4 linked regions of the Homo sapiens genome follow. The protein of the gene in region 1 interacts with the protein of each later gene in a pairwise test. Each region holds a gene or a part of one and is shown on either strand. Other genes may lie near its edges.

The links. The genes of interacting proteins can lie anywhere in the genome.
Region 2: the proteins of RAB3IL1 (region 1) and CHCHD3 interact in a two-hybrid assay, tested with the Homo sapiens proteins (one large-scale study listed by IntAct).
Region 3: the proteins of RAB3IL1 (region 1) and RAB11A interact in a two-hybrid assay, tested with the Homo sapiens proteins (2 studies listed by BioGRID and IntAct).
Region 4: the proteins of RAB3IL1 (region 1) and FHL5 interact in binary tests that used the Homo sapiens proteins (3 or more experiments, as listed by UniProt).

What each region holds. Positions count from the first base shown.
Region 1 is NC_000011.10:61,899,264-61,904,926, reverse strand, and holds part of RAB3IL1 (guanine nucleotide exchange factor for Rab-3A), read left to right. Parts: intron 1-44; coding exon 45-173; intron 174-268; coding exon 269-381; intron 382-2,385; coding exon 2,386-2,485; intron 2,486-5,546; coding exon 5,547-5,613; intron 5,614-5,663. UniProt on the Homo sapiens protein: Guanine nucleotide exchange factor (GEF) which may activate RAB3A, a GTPase that regulates synaptic vesicle exocytosis. Promotes the exchange of GDP to GTP, converting inactive GDP-bound Rab proteins into their active GTP-bound form.
Region 2 is NC_000007.14:133,075,591-133,079,090, forward strand, and holds part of CHCHD3 (MICOS complex subunit MIC19), read right to left. Parts: intron 1-3,500. UniProt on the Homo sapiens protein: Component of the MICOS complex, a large protein complex of the mitochondrial inner membrane that plays crucial roles in the maintenance of crista junctions, inner membrane architecture, and formation of contact sites to the outer membrane.
Region 3 is NC_000015.10:65,889,490-65,892,489, reverse strand, and holds the end of RAB11A (ras-related protein Rab-11A), read right to left. Parts: 3' UTR 501-3,000; downstream 1-500. UniProt on the Homo sapiens protein: The small GTPases Rab are key regulators of intracellular membrane trafficking, from the formation of transport vesicles to their fusion with membranes.
Region 4 is NC_000006.12:96,566,128-96,569,627, reverse strand, and holds part of FHL5 (four and a half LIM domains protein 5), read right to left. Parts: intron 1-3,500. UniProt on the Homo sapiens protein: May be involved in the regulation of spermatogenesis. Stimulates CREM transcriptional activity in a phosphorylation-independent manner.

The sequences.
Region 1 (5,663 bases):
CCAGTACCCTGACCGCCCCCACCCTCGCTTGCCCTCCCCCACAGGTGGACACAATCCTGTTTGCAGAGTTCCAGGCCTGGAGGGAATCCCCCACCCTGGACAAGACCTGCCCCTTCCTGGAAAGGGTGTACCGAGAGGACGTGGGCCCCTGCCTGGACTTCACAATGCAGGAGGTGAGGCATGGCAGGGGCGGGGCCAGCTGGGGGACACACCCCTCCGCCAGGGCCCAGCCCCTTACCACCCTGCCTGCCTCCCTGGTCTGCCACAGCTCTCGGTGCTGGTACGGGCCGCCGTGGAGGACAACACGCTCACCATTGAGCCGGTGGCTTCGCAGACGCTGCCCACAGTGAAGGTGGCCGAGGTTGACTGTAGCAGCACCAAGTAAGCTGAGGGTCTTAGCTCCTTCCTGCCCATGTGGGAAAGCCCCGCCAAGCCGTGTGTTTACTGTGCCGAGGGGTGGTCAGGATGCAGCAGCGCCGACAGGACAGGGACAGTTGCTGCCCCCACAGGGCAAGGAGGCAGTTTGGCAGGTTTCCTGTGGACCCCCAGGCTTTCCAGAGAGGCCGGGAGCTAGGGTCTGCCTCTTCCTGACTGGTCTGCTCTGTGCCCTCCCCTTCTTTTCTTGAACCATGATTATCAGTTGCTGGCTGTGCCCCTGCCAATAAATAACGACGCAGTAGCCCTGGCATTTGTCCTCCAGCTACTCACCTGGCATTGAGCAGGGGAGCAGCAGAACAAAATAGCCAGGGTGGAGCAAGGGGCAGAAATTGGGGAGGATTTCACCTTGGCAGCCAAGAGCCTGGCTGGGGATGGCTGGTGCCCTGGTGGGAGGCTCATCACGGAGAGGGAGCATTTGAGCCAGGTTTTGAAGGATGAATAGAAGTTTGCCAAGCAGGGAAGGGCATTTCAGGCAGAGGGAACGGAATGTGCAAAGGTGTGAGAAGCTGGAGTATTAACGGAAGCACCACTGGGGCATCTGGCTAAGCAGTGGGGGGACAGGGAATTGGGGTGGAGGCTGCAGAGGCTGTTGGGGCCAGAGTATAAAGAGCCTTCACAGGTTTGGGCTTTAACCCACCAGCCAGTGCGGCAAAAGTCATCAATAGGCCGGGTGCAGTGGCTCACACCTGTAATCCCAGCACTCTGGGAGGTTGAGGCGGGTGGATCACTTGAGGTCAGGAGTTTGAGACCAACCTGGCCAACATGGAGAAAACCCCATCTCTACTAAAGATATAAAAGTTAGCCGGGTGTGGTGGCACACGCCTGTAATCTCAGCTGCTCGGGAGGCTGAGTCAGGAGAATTGCTTGAGCCTGGGAGACGGAGGTTGTGGTGAGCTGAGATTGCACCACTGCACTCCAGTCTGGGTGACAGAGTGAGACCCTGTCTCAAAAAAAAAAAAAAGTCATCAATAGCTGCCACCTGAAAAGAGGCTCTCTGGTCCATCAGAGAGTCCCAGTGAACCAGGAGGCAACAAATGCTCTGATAAGTCCGCAGCCAAGGAGCTTTTTAAACCTTCATTTATTTGGGATTCTCCCCATTTCTTGGGAATTAGGAAAGCAAGAGAGAAAGATGATGGGTTAGATGTGGGTTTTTGGAGGAGCCCTGGCTCTGATGTGGAGAAGAAAGAGAGCGATGAGGCAGAGAGCTGGCCAGAAGGAGCCAAGGGGATGCAGGCCAAAAGTACTGCTGCTGTGCCCTGGCCTGGGGACTTGGTGACCAAGCAGAGGGTGAGGAGGAGAGAGCCGAGCAGATGATGGCCAGTGAAGAGCAGGTTTGGGGAGTGGGGCCCAGATGGGGGTTGCTCAGGGCCTGTGGAGACCCTTCATGTGGGTGGCTGAAGATGCTGAGCGACGTCATGCAGGACTGGGGGGAGGAGAGAAGAGGGCATGGGAGAAGGCTCTTAGACGGGGTTGGTTGGCATGCGGCTGAGAACCATGGGGGTTAGTGGGGTCAGAAGGCCTGCATGGATGAAGCAGGGGAGCTGCTGGATGTTGGGAAGCGGGAGGCAGCCAGACCTCAACTCTGGCCTAGTTGGGGGAGGAGTGCCTGGTCTGAGTCCCCAGAAGTAGAGGGAGAGGCATATGCAGAGCCTGCAGAGGGTGGGACTTTGTACACCTGGCATGAGATTAACCAAGCTCTCTTGCCCAGTAGGGGCAAAACAAGGGTTCTAGGGGTACAGCTCAGCTTAGTTCGAGGTCTGTCCCAGGGATGGCTGGGGCCAGCTCCCTTCTCTGCCTGGCTCTGGGTTCCTTTGGAAGCCGGGTGGGGGAAGGGAGGCCTGCCCCTCCCCATGCATCCTCTCAGCTGCTGCATCTTCCCTGTATGCAGGGGTGAGGGAGAGGGGCAAGCCCCAGCCAGCCCCCGTGACCCATTTTGCTTTCCCCTAGCACATGTGCCCTGAGCGGGCTGACCCGCACCTGCCGCCACCGAATCCGGCTCGGGGACTCCAAAAGCCATTACTACATCTCGCCATCTTCCCGGGCCAGGGTGAGTCAGCCTTTGCAAGCGTTACTTGACTCCTTTGGGGCCACCTGGGTGCTGGGACACTGGGCCCTGGGCCTGGGAGTATGAATAGCACTACACCTTGATTTACTTATTTTATTTATTTATTTTTTGAGACAGAGTCTTTGTCACCCAGGCTGGAGTGCAGTGGCACAATCTCAGTTCACTGCAATGTCTGCCTCCCAGGCAGACATTAGCAATTCTCCTGCCTCAGCTTCCCAAGTAGCTGGGATTACAGGCATGTGCCACCACGCCCAGCTAATTTTGTATTTTTAGTAGAGATGGGGTTTCACCACGTTGGCCAGGCTGAACTCGAACTCCTGGCCTTAAGTGATCTGCCTGCCTCGGCCTCCCAAAGTGCTGGGATTATAGGTGTGAGCCACCACGCCCAGCCTTACATCTTGATTTACAGAGCAGGGTACAGGCTCAGAGAGGCGCAGAGACTGACTCGGGCCACACAGCCAAGCCAAGGGCAGTGGTTTGCTATTACGGTGTAACAAATTACTATCAACCTGGTAGCTTAAAATAGCGCAGTTCCCCATGTTGGAGTCTAAGCACTACTTACTTACTGGATTCTCTGCTCAGGGACTTGCAAGGTCGCAGTAAGCTGTCAGCAGACTGTGTTCCTTTCTGGAAGTCAGGGTCCTCCTCAAAACTCACATTGTTGGCAGCATTCAGTTCCTTGTGTTTGAAGGACTGAGGCCCCTATTTTCTTGCTGGCTGCTGGCAAGGGGACACCCTCAGCTTCTAGAGGACACCCGCAGTCCCCTGCCACAGGGCCTTGTTGCACAGGGCAGCTGACTTCAGAGCCATCAGGAGGGCCACTCTCCAGTCGGCTGAGATGCAGCCTTATGTATGAAATGTCATGGGATGACATCGCCCCCCTCTGTCATTCAATGTCACCTAATCCAGGAGTGATGCTAGAGTTCCAGTTAGAGTGCGGGGCTCCTGACGCCCAGACTCAGGTGCTGGCCGAAGCTTTGGAAAAGGTTCAGCGGTGCGTCTGGTGCACCAGCCTTAAGTCGGCCGTGAGTGCCAAGGGGCCTCTAGGAATCCCAGCTCCCACCCTCCCCTGCCGAGTGACCCAGACCAGGACAGGGGTTCTCACCAAGCTGGGGATTGAGGACAGGGATTCCTCTTCCTCTGTCCCTCTGTTGACTCTTAAGAGGATTGAGGGGAACAAGAGAACATGTTTGGAAACACGTTTCCAGTGACACAGCTTGAGGAACCATCTCAGGCCTGCTAGAGGCTCCTCGCAGGGGAGCAGGTCTAAAGGGGACAAATGGTCCCTTTGCTGGCAGCAGACTATACTGTCCTTGATGAACTCCACAAGGCATCCGAGCGTGAGTCCTCCCAGCGGTGTGCTGAGCACCCATTTACCAAAAGGGAGGCTGAGCCTTGGCAGAGGAAAGGGGTGTGTTCAGGGCCACACACCGAGACCTGGGATCCTGGCTCTGAGTCCACTGCAGCCCCTACCCTGTGGATTTGTGCCCACTGAGCCTTGTTCAGTGGCCACTTATCTCCATCACCGCTTTCCAGGCCCAACCATGGCTCAACAGCAGGCCCCACAAAAGATGTTCCCGTGCTCAACAATGTCACCTCTAGCACTTTAAGTCCCTGGCCTGGGTGTCCTGCTGCACTGGATGAAGCTGGGGGTGGGAGATGAGGTGAGGAGGGTCTGAAGTTTTAGGATGTGGTCCCTGCCCTGAAAGACCAAGACATGTGGGGTCCACAGGGAGAAGTGTTTTCTCCCTAGCACACTCCCTGGAGAGGGAAAGCCCCCTCCCTGCTACTCCCTGCTCATGAGCCTCTGTGGGCATCCACTGTCCCTGCTCCTGTCCTGAGCTCTGCCCTGCCCCACCCTCCTGCCGCAGCCTCTCCTCAACCCTCCCTGTGCAGCGGTGTCCCTGCCACGACGGGCTGGTCCCCCGACCTCGCCCCGCTCTCTCGCACCTCCCTATCTTTGCCAGGCCACCACCGTCCCGCCCCTCCCCGAAGCTTCTCCACTCCCCAGCCTGCGGGTGCCCCTCTCACTTGATGTCCCTCCCCAGGAGTGTTGGACATTCAGTAGGGGCTGTTGCGGGCGGGCACAGCCGCCGGCTACCTTCCACCCTGTCTTAGGCTGGGTTCCGAAGAGGCAGAGCCTCACCTGGAGATTGTGTGCAGCTCCCAGGAGAATGAGGGAAGGGACGGGGGAGTCCAGCCAGGATGTGGCCTTAGCTACAGCCCAGCTTCAGCCCCATCCACCGGGCTCTTAGCAGAGTTGATTCCACCCTGAGGCAAGGGGACTGTCCTTTCTATCTCCACACAAGTCAGTCATCGGCTGAGGTCTACAGGAGGAGTGAGTACAGAGGGGGGCACCTCTGAGCCATTAGTGCCCCCACTCTCAGCAGCTGGGAGATGGGGCCCGGGCCTGGGAAGGGGCCCTGGGCCAGGCACCAACAGTACCCTCTCCGTGGTGTGAGTCCTCATAGCAGTGTCTGAGCCAACACAGGGTCCCCGGGGCCTGGCATGGAGCAGGCCTGAGGCCCCAGGGGCCCCGGGCAGCCCAGGTGAGCGGCTTCTGACCCCCTTTCCTTTCCCAGTGTTATCAGTAGCACTGGACTGAGGCCTGGCTGGCCCAAAACTCCAGCATCTGGAGCAAGCCGGCCTGTGAGAGGGCGAGTGTAGACTCCGGGACAGCCTGCCCGGTTCATCTCACAGCTCTGCTGCATGCTGGTTCATTAGCTCCGCCATCTCCGTGATGGATGTCAGCGGCTTTCCCCGGGTGGCTCCGCTTTCCCCCATGTAAGATGGAATAATAAGCGCGTCTGCTCCGTTCGCTGCAGGCGCTTGATGAAATGGCTGCTGCTGCTGCTGCTGCTATTACAGCAGGGCTAGTCATGCTGTTGTTGATTACTACTTGAAAGCCCAGTCCCAGCTGAGTCAGGGAGCACTGCCTGGCTCTGCAGGGACCTGGGGCCTCCTGCTCTGGACTCAGATCCGCCTGTCAGGGGACCCCCAGCGTGGGGCTGGCAGGTCACACCGTCCCCACCTCTGCCCACAGATCACCGCAGTGTGCAACTTCTTCACCTACATCCGCTACATCCAGCAAGGCCTGGTGCGGCAGGACGGTGAGCGCCCCCTGGTGGCCGGTGCAGGGATCGCACACGGGAGTGGGGCT
Region 2 (3,500 bases), on another chromosome or scaffold:
CTCCTCTGTGAACAGGGGTACTCACTCGTGAAGCAGCTGACAAGCTTTAGAGATGCTGGCCAGGATTATACACGCAATCTGTAGCTGCAGAACAACTCATCTTTCTGATAAAAAATGACCCAAAATGGGGGTCGATAGTACAACACAAGCTTCTGCGATGGCAGCCTCTGTGTAAGAAGTATCTTGCGGTCAGGTGTGGTGGCTCACGCCTATAATCCCAGCACTTTGGGAGGCCAAGGCAGGCAGATCATGAGGTCAGAAGATCAAGGCCATCCTGGCTAACACGGTGAAACCCCATCTCTACTAAAAATATAAAAAATTAGCCAGGTATGGTGGTGGGTGCCTGTAGTCCCAGCTACTTGGGAAGCTGAAGTAGGAAAATCGCTTGAACCCAGAAGGTGGAGGTTGCAATGAGCCGAGATCGCACCACTGCACTCCAGCATGGGCAAGAGAATGAGATTCTATCTCAAAAAAAAAAAAAAAAAAAAAAAAAGTATCTTCTTCAGGAAACATATCTTTTCCTGAACCGGGCACTTGTTTAAGCAAAGCCTTTTCCTGTACAATGACCTATACCTATTATACTTGCTTTCCAGACATCTCTGGAATCTGCATCAAGGCAAATACCAAGGGCAATTTACAGAAATTATTTGTAGCAAAGAATAGTGAAATAATCCCCACACACATTGATACTGGGAATTACACCCTGAGGTCCACAGACTGAGTAGTCCGTGGGTCAATTACTCAACTGTATGCAAAACTGTCTGCTTATTGCATGGTTCTGGCCAGAATCCACAGCTTACAGATCCACAGTGCTCTATGAACTAAAAGAGCCACCATTCTAATATAAGGGGCAATCAAAAGAAGCAGGTCTGCCGATATTCAGCCCACTGAACTTGACTGTCCACCCTATTCTCTATTGCTCCTAAAGACAAATTTAAGCAAACAGAGCTTGCCAAGTTTAAATTTGTGGTACTCACCACACCAATGTGCTCCACAGAGGGGGAAAGGCCATGTGTCATCTCCTACAGTCTTCCCACTCATCTCTTCCTACCCACCTTGTTTGGTCTTATCCAAAATCCGTGCCAGAAACACTACCCACCAATCCAAAAGAAAGAATTTTCTCAGAAACAGGAGACTGGGTGAGTTGGACAAAGAGAAAGTATTTCTACTCCCAGGTAACAGAGTAAAAAAAGAGGAATTCTTCAGTGGCCCTTCTAAGAGGTAAAGTTATGAGCCACATGAGACAAATAAATCAGCCTCCTGCCTCCATTAGTTTATCTTATCTTCTTCCAGATGTGTCCTAGCAAATTGATTCAAGAACTCAGACCCATTTTTTCTCTCTTGATCCTCCTTCCACTTAGCATAGGTCATTTTCTGTGTGAGTATTAGTTTGCTTCACAATTACCTTTTTAAGACATAGGCTCCAAAAACTGCCATTATTATTTGGGAGAAATTACTCCCAAATAGTTAGTTAAGAGAAAGGGGGAGAGGGAACCCATATATATGTTGATAGATATATATGAAATATGTAATGCTTAGCTTATGTCTGTGTTTCTTTACATTTGTCATTAGTAGAAACCATTATCCCTACCTTTATAAAATCCTAGATAACTTAAGATGGTAGCCAAAAACTTCATAGAATCTAAAGCTGAAAGAAACTAATCATCCACTACTTAACTAAATTTGCACAACATTCCTCAACACTCCCAAGGGCTGACCGAATTTGTAGTCTCTGATAACATACTCTCTTCAGAATCCTCAGTAATACCGCATATTAAGTAATCTCTTCATTTACGGTCTCTCAACTGCCAACACTTCCCAAAGCATGAGTTACGTTCCATATTAAGTATCCATACTGCCATAACTGGCTCCTGTGAATTTCAGCTTGCAACTTTAAAGCCCAGCTGCGGACATTCGTTTATGTCTGGAAAGCATGATAAATATATCTTTGAAAATGATACTCATTGAAGTTGACATTTGCTCCAGAAGAGTTCACTCACAGCTTTGATGTTTCAGATAAACTTGCGAAAGATAGAGTTGTAAGCACACTTTCCAAGCAGGCACAGCAGGTGCTCACAAAAATCCTATCAACCACATGTAATATGAGTAATGAAAATGCTTGGTCTTTCCTCTCTAGGAATTTATTTTAGCCTTGAGAAGAGGGCAAGGCAAAAGAGTGACCTCTCATCCAATCCATAAGAGTAGTTTCAGATTCAAAGTTGGAATCAGGTGTAAAAATATAGGTTACTTTTACAGAAGAGGGAAGAAAAGCTATCAGTTGCTAAGGATAAAGGGAAAAAACAAGACCCTACAATACCATGAAAAATAACACCTGGTAGGTGAGAAGAAATTTTAAACTTAAAATTTGAAGTAGGTCCTTTCATTGCTATTAAGGACCTCAACAATATAGAGAAACACAATCTATTAATAAATTCAGCCAGGTGTGGAGGCTCACACCTGTAATCCCAGCACTTTGGGAGGCTGAGGTGGGTAGATCACTTGAGGTCAGGAGTTTGAGACCAGCCTGGCCAACATGGTGAAACCCCCCTCTACTAAACATACAAAAAAGTTAGCAGGGCATGGTGGCACAGGCCTATAATCCTGGCTACTCAGGAGGCTGAAGCAGGAGAATCACTTGAACCTGGGAGGCAGAGGTTGCAGCAAGCTGAGATCATGCCACTGCCCTCCAGCCTGGGTGACAGAGCAAGACTCGTCTCAAATAAATAAATAAATATTCAGCATAGTTACCAAAAGCCTTATGTTGTTCACTAAATGTTATTCTTTATACATTAAGATAAATGATGACTGAGCCTGGTGGAGCGGCACATGCCCGTAGTCCCAGAGGCTGGGGCAGGAGGATAGCTTGAGCCCAGGAGTTGAGACCAGCTTGGGCAACACAGGGAGACTCCAACTCAAAAAAACCTCATAATTGCCAACATATTTATATTAAGGGAATGAACCCAAGTCATTATATGAAAAAAATAAAGGAAGATGAAATTATAGATGCTCCTTGGTTTACAACGGATTTTGCTGAAGGTAATGCCAGAAGCTGAGTTTACTGAACGCTTGTCACTTCCACACCACTGTCAAAAAATCCTAAGTCGAACCATCCTAACAGGAGACCGTCTGTACTATCTTTAACAGTGTAACAGAACACAGAATTAGCTTTCCAGCAGTGACTGCCTCTGTTGAATTAGTAAGCTTGGTAAACTTTCATTTCTTACAACCAATGACATAAATGCTAGACAACTGGTCAAAGTTGGAACGTTTTCTTCAGCCAAGCTGAACTAACCTAACTGCAGTTCAAAACTGAAGTTTGGTGCCTCATCGGCACCATGTTCTAACAAACTAAGCTAAAAACAATGGCTTATGGACATACTGAGAATGCGGTTTCTTATCCTTCCCCATGTCTCAGAAGGGAACAAAGTGACTATTTAAAGCCAAGAAAAATATAAAGAAATAAAAACCATCTACAACAGACCTAGACAAAAAAACACCCT
Region 3 (3,000 bases), on another chromosome or scaffold:
CACTTCCCTAGAAATACCTGAGAAAATGGTATGCTGAGAGATTAGAGGTTGTCAACAGGGGGACAGGTGCTAAAAACAGTACATTATTCATTGGGATGAGAGTTAAAAAGGTCTGAGATTTTGTGGTTTGGAGCAAGGTTAAGTTCCACTGACTCAAACATAGTAAAGGAATCCTGTTGGCTGCTAATTCTCACTACCATCACTGGTACTGGTAACATAGTTAGCCAATATACATAACATTTTGTGCTCACACCCGTGTCAGGAACTATCCTATAATTAATAAATGTCAAAGAATTGAATTTAAATAATGTTTTGACTATTAATAATTAGATCACTAGATCAACAACCCCAAAATACCATGTGTATCATGTACATGCACACATAAACCTGTACACTTGGATTTAATCACTGGTTCTACTGGATAGCTAGCCTGTGGACTGATCTACCTTCTTGTAGATTCCTATTAAAGAAATAATTTTTTAAAAATTAAACACAAAATGTTTTTAAAAGTTCTCTCCCAGACATGAGTATATTTTAAAGTACATATTAAAAGCCAGCAGTTTTTTTTTAACAGCAAAAGCCATAAAACAAGCAGTTCTCAATTTACAGTTAACATAGCAGCCCATCAAGTGCTCCTCTCCCTTAGCATATATGGTACTTTGATGCATATTGTTGATATTGACAGTCATTTTGCAAATAAATGTTCTGAAAGCTTTCATCTTATTTAAAGGAGTAAACATGGAAATAAAGGCACCATTTTAATCAGGTTATTGTGATAAGACCAAAAACATTCCACAAAGTGCATACCTCATTTTGACTTCTCTATTAAATTTAAACTTGAGTTAAAATGTTAATAATTTGGCTTTAATTGAAGAGAGAGTTCATTCAGAGAATTACAGAGTTCGAATTGGGATGAATCCCCAGAGTTTATTTAATCTGGTACCCTCATTAATTGGAAGAATGTGAGGCTCAAAAATGAAATGACCACAAGAGCCATGACTAGAATCTCTTCGTTACTCAGTCCAGTGCTCTATCATACCAGCTACTTTCACTCTTCTAACCCACAGTTTACCGTATTTTCTAATACATGCTAGTATATTGCCTAGTACACAACATCCTTTCAAATATTCTTTCTTTATTCTCCAATTCACTTTTCAGGAGAATAGATAACCTCAATCATATTGATTCTCAGCCTAATGGTCTCCCTTACATAAATTATAATGACATAAGCATTTTGTATCACTTTATTGTTACCATCGACCTCCTACAGTTTGGGGGAACCCAATCATTCTTTAAAACATTAGAATGACAACTCCAGTTGATTTGGCATATTGTATAGGTGAGTGGGAAAGACTTGTCAAATCCCAGAAAGGGGCGTGGCACCAGCACCACCCAACCAGAAGAAAAATCTCTCTTTGGTGCTAGTGTCATAGCTCCCTATCTGTTCCGCTAACCCATTAAATGATGTGGTGGAAGAGGATCCTTTCACAATCTTTGTTCATTTTTTTACAGAGCAAATGGAAGTCATACATAACCTTTTACAAAATTCATTTTTTGTTTTAATTTTTTTCCAGGTATGTGATATTTGTGAGACATCAGAAAATCAATTTATATTTTTTTCCTCTGTTAAACCAAGCCCCACAAATTGAAACCTGACAGGTTAGAATAAGTTCTTAAATATCCACCCAGCCTTTGAATTCTTTTGCTTCTAGTGTTGGCCAAAACTGTCTAAATAGTACAGCTTCTTCTCTAAGGTAGATGGAAGAGATTATCACAACAGCTCAACCCACTAAAAGCATTTGTATTTTATAAATACCAGTCAGCAAAGACAAAAATTAAGATATTCATTTTTTCAATGATCAAAGAAATGTGACCAGCTCTGATGGGCAACCCAAACTCAAGAAGTGTAACTTTTCTGCAGAACCCTTCAGAACTTAAAAGATCACTGATGTAAGGTCACTAGCTGGCACCTCTTCTTATAATTACAATTAAATGGGCAATAACTTACCCTTACATAATGACAACTACTATTAAAGAGAAATCATGGCATTTGAGAACAATGACATAAGATTAAATCAAGGCACCATGGCTAACTATTCAGGAGACTATATAACAGGTTAAAAAAAAATTCAAGGCCAGGCACGGTGGCTCACGCCTTTAATCCCAGCACTTTGGGAGGCCGAGGTGGGTGTATCACCAGGTCAGGAGATCGAGACCACCCTGGCTAACATGGTGAAACCCCGTCTCTACTAAAAATACAAAAAATTAGCCAGTCGTGGTGGCTGGCGCCTATAATCCCAGCTACTCGGGAGGCTGAGGCAGGAGAATGGCATGAACCCTGGAGGTGGAGCTTGCAGTGAGCTGAGATGGTGCCATTGTACTCCAGCCTGGGCAACAGAGCAAGACTCCGTCTCAAAAAAAAAAAAAAAAATTCAAAGTTAAAATAACTGAAAATCAAGGTCAAGTAGCAAAATACTTCTAAACTGCCTTAAGCCCTGAACTGTCATAATATTTAAAAATTTATTGTTTCTTGCTTGAGACAGTTTGTCTCCTAAGATACTACTCAGAATAAAGACACCTGCTGAAATGCAATCAAAGTCATTTTCTAATACCTAATATTTCCTGGAATTCTCCCAAGATCCAGCCATACTCAAAGCAACATTTAAGTCTACACTTGGGTAAAAATTCTAAGTTTACTTTATTCATTTTCAATTCACTATTTAGTTTTTCTCTTTTCTCCTTACTTTGTAAAAAATCTACCACCAACTTTCAATAAAATAGAGATGGTTTCTTTTCCTGGGTCTGGTGACACTGTTATATATGAAAATACACACTACTTTCCTAATGTTTTTGGACATACTTTTTCCAAGGAAAGCATAATTGAACTGCAGTTCTAAAATCAAAGCTGAATTCACACACTGATGCTCCCAATTCAATGTTTACTCAGTAATGCAAGAACCTATGCTTTTACATCAGGATTCCACGGCTGCACCCAAAGCA
Region 4 (3,500 bases), on another chromosome or scaffold:
AAACATACACACATCCAATACCACAACATCCAGATTTATAAAGCAAATAATTAAACCCAAAGGAGAAATAGATTTCAGTACAATTATAGCTGGGGACTTCAACACCCCTCAGCATTGGACAGATCATTCAGGCAGAAAATTAACAAAGAAACATTTAATTTAAACTGCACTTTAGACCAAATGAACCTACCAGACATTTACAGAACATTTCATTCAACAGCTGCAAAATACATATTCTTTTCATTAGAAAATGAAACATTCTTTAGCATAGACCACGTTAGACCACAAAACAAATCTTAACAAATTTAATAGAAATCATATCAATTTTTGACCACAATATAATAAAACTAGAAATCAAAATAACGAGGAACTTTAAAAATTGTACAAATACATAGAAATTATACAACATGTTCCTGAATAACAAATTAGTCAATGAAGAAATTAAGAGGAAGATTTTAAAATATCTTCAAACAAATGAAAATAGAAACACAAAATACCAAAACATCTGGGGTATAGCAAAAGCAGTATTAGAAGGTAAGTGTGCAGCAACAAACACCTATATCAAAAAAGTAGAAAGATATCAAATAAACAAGCTCATGATGCACTTCAAGAAACTAGAAAAGCAGAGTAAACCAAGCCCAAAATTAGAAGGAAAGAAAGAAAAGCATACATAAATAAAATTAAGACTAAAAAATACAAAATATCAACAAAATGGAAAGCTGAATTTTTTTGAAAAGATAAACAAAATCAACATTCCATTGGCTTGACTACCCAAGAAAAACGTAAAGGTCCCAATAAAATCAGGAATGAAAAGGAGACATTACAACTAATACCATAGAAATACAAAAAATTATCAGAGACTATTATAAACAGCTATATACCAAAAACTTTAGAAGACCTGACAGAAATAGGTAAATTCCTGGACACAAACAATCTATCAGAAGTGAACCAACAAGAAAGAGAACACCTGAACAGACCAATTACAAGTAATGGCATTAAGTCTGTAATAAAAAGTCTCTTATCAAAAAGAAGCTCAGAATATGACAGCTTCACTCTGGAATTCTACCAAAGATTTATAGAAGAACTAATACAAATTCTCCTCAAATTCTTCCAGAAATTGAAGATAAGGGAATTCTTTAAAACTCATTCTATGAGGCCAGTGTTACCTTGATACCAAAACTAGTCAAGGATGCAACAACAAAAAAAGAAAACTATAAGCCAATGAACATGATGAGCATAGATGCAAAAATCCTCAACAAAATACTTGTGAACCAATCTGGCAGCACATTAAAGAGATTATTCACCATGTAGGTAAGATTTACCTCAGGGATGTAATATACAAATGAATAAATGTGATACATTACATCAACAAAATGAAGGGCAAAAACAATTTGATCATCTCAAGAGATAGAGAAAATGTATTTGAGAAAAATTCAACATCCCCTCATGATAAAAATTCTCAACAAGTTAGGTATAGAAGGAATGTACTTCCACATAATTAAAGCCATGTATGACAAACCCACAGCCAATATCACACTGAATGGAGAAAAGTTTAAAGCTTTTCTTCTAAGATTTGGAAGACAATCATCTCACTTTTATTCAAAAGAGTACTGGAAGCCCTAGGCAGAGCACTTAGGCTAGAGAAAGAGATAAGGAGCATCTAAATTGAAAAGGAGGTCAAATTGTCCTCATTTGCAAATAACAAGAGCTTCTATATAGAAAATCATAAAAGCTCCACCAAAAATCTCAGAACTGATAAACAGATTCAGTAAAGTTGGAGGATACAAAAAAAAAAAAAAAAAGAATACAAAAACCAGTAGCTTTTCTATACACCAAAAACAAACTAGTGGAAAAAAAATCAAGAAACAAATTGCATTTATAATAGCTACAAAAAAAGCCATGTAGGAATATATTTAACCAAGGAGGTGAAAGATCTCTACAATAAAAACTGCAAAACACTGATAAAAAAAATTGAAGAAGACACAAAAAATGGAAAGATATCTCATGTTCATGAATTGTAGACATTAATATTGTAAAAATTAATACAATACTACTAAAAGTGATCTACCAATTCAATGCAATGTTATCAAAATACCAGTGATGTTCTTCACAGAAACAGAAAAAAACTCCTACAATTTATATGAAACCACAAAAGACCCTGAATAGCCAAAGCAATCCTGAGCAAAATGAACAAAGCCGGAGAAATCACATTTTGAACTTCAAAATATATTTCAAAACTATAGTAACCCGGATAGCATGATATTGGCATATGAATAGAGACATAGAACAATGGAGCATAATAGAGAACCCAGAAATAAATTCACATATTTACAGCCAAATGATTTTCAACAAAGCTGCCAAGAACATTTAATGGGGAAGGAACAGTCTCTTTGAAAAATGATGCTGGGAAAACTGAATATTCATATGCAGAAAAATGAAACTGTATTTCTACCTCACATAACATGTAAAAATCAACTCAAAATGGATTAAAAACTTAAATATAAGACCTGAATCTATGAAGCAACTAGAAGCAAACATAGGGGAAATACTTCAGGGTATTGGTGTGAGCAAAAATTTCATGGATAAGACCTCAATAGCACAGACAACCAAAGCAAAAATAGACAAATGAAATTATGTCAAACTAAAAAGCTTCTGCGCAGCAAAGGAAACAGTCAACAGAGAAAAAAGACAACCTGCAGGACAGGAGAAAGTATTTGCAAACTATTCATCTGACAAGAGTTTAATATTCATAATATAAAATGAGCTCAATAGCAAATAAAAAATCACATTAGAAAGCAGACAAATAAGCTGAATAGACATCTCTCTAAAGAAGACATACAAATGGCCAACAGGTAGGTACAAAAAATGGTCAATGTCATTAATCATCAGGGTAATGCAAATCAAAACCGCAAGAAGATATAATCTCACCCCAGTTAGAATGGCTATTACCAAGGAGACAAAAAAAAAATGCTGACAAGGATTTGGTGAAACACAAACTCTTATATGTTATTTGGAATATATGCATATATATGCCCATTATGGAAAACAGTTTGAAGGTTCCTCAAAAAATTAAAAATAGAACTACCGTATGATCCAACAATCCCACTACTGGGTATATATCCAAAGGAAAGGAAATCAGTATGTTAAAGAGATATCTGTATTCCCATGTTTATTGCAGCACTACTCACAACACATAGCCAAGATATGAAATTACCTAAGTTTCCATCAATAGGCGAATGGATTAAAAAAAGTGCTATATATCCCAATGAAGTATTATTTAGTTGTAAAAAAGAACAAATTTCTGTCATTCACGGCAACATGAATGAGCTTGGAGGACATTATTTTAAGTGAAATAAGCTAGACACAGAAAGATAAATACTGCATGTCCTCATGAATATGAAGAAGCTAAAAAAGTCAATCTCATAGAAGGAGAGAGCAGAATAGTGCTTACTGGAAGCAGAAAAGGGTAGGGGGAAGAAAGAGATAGCCAAAGGTAGGTT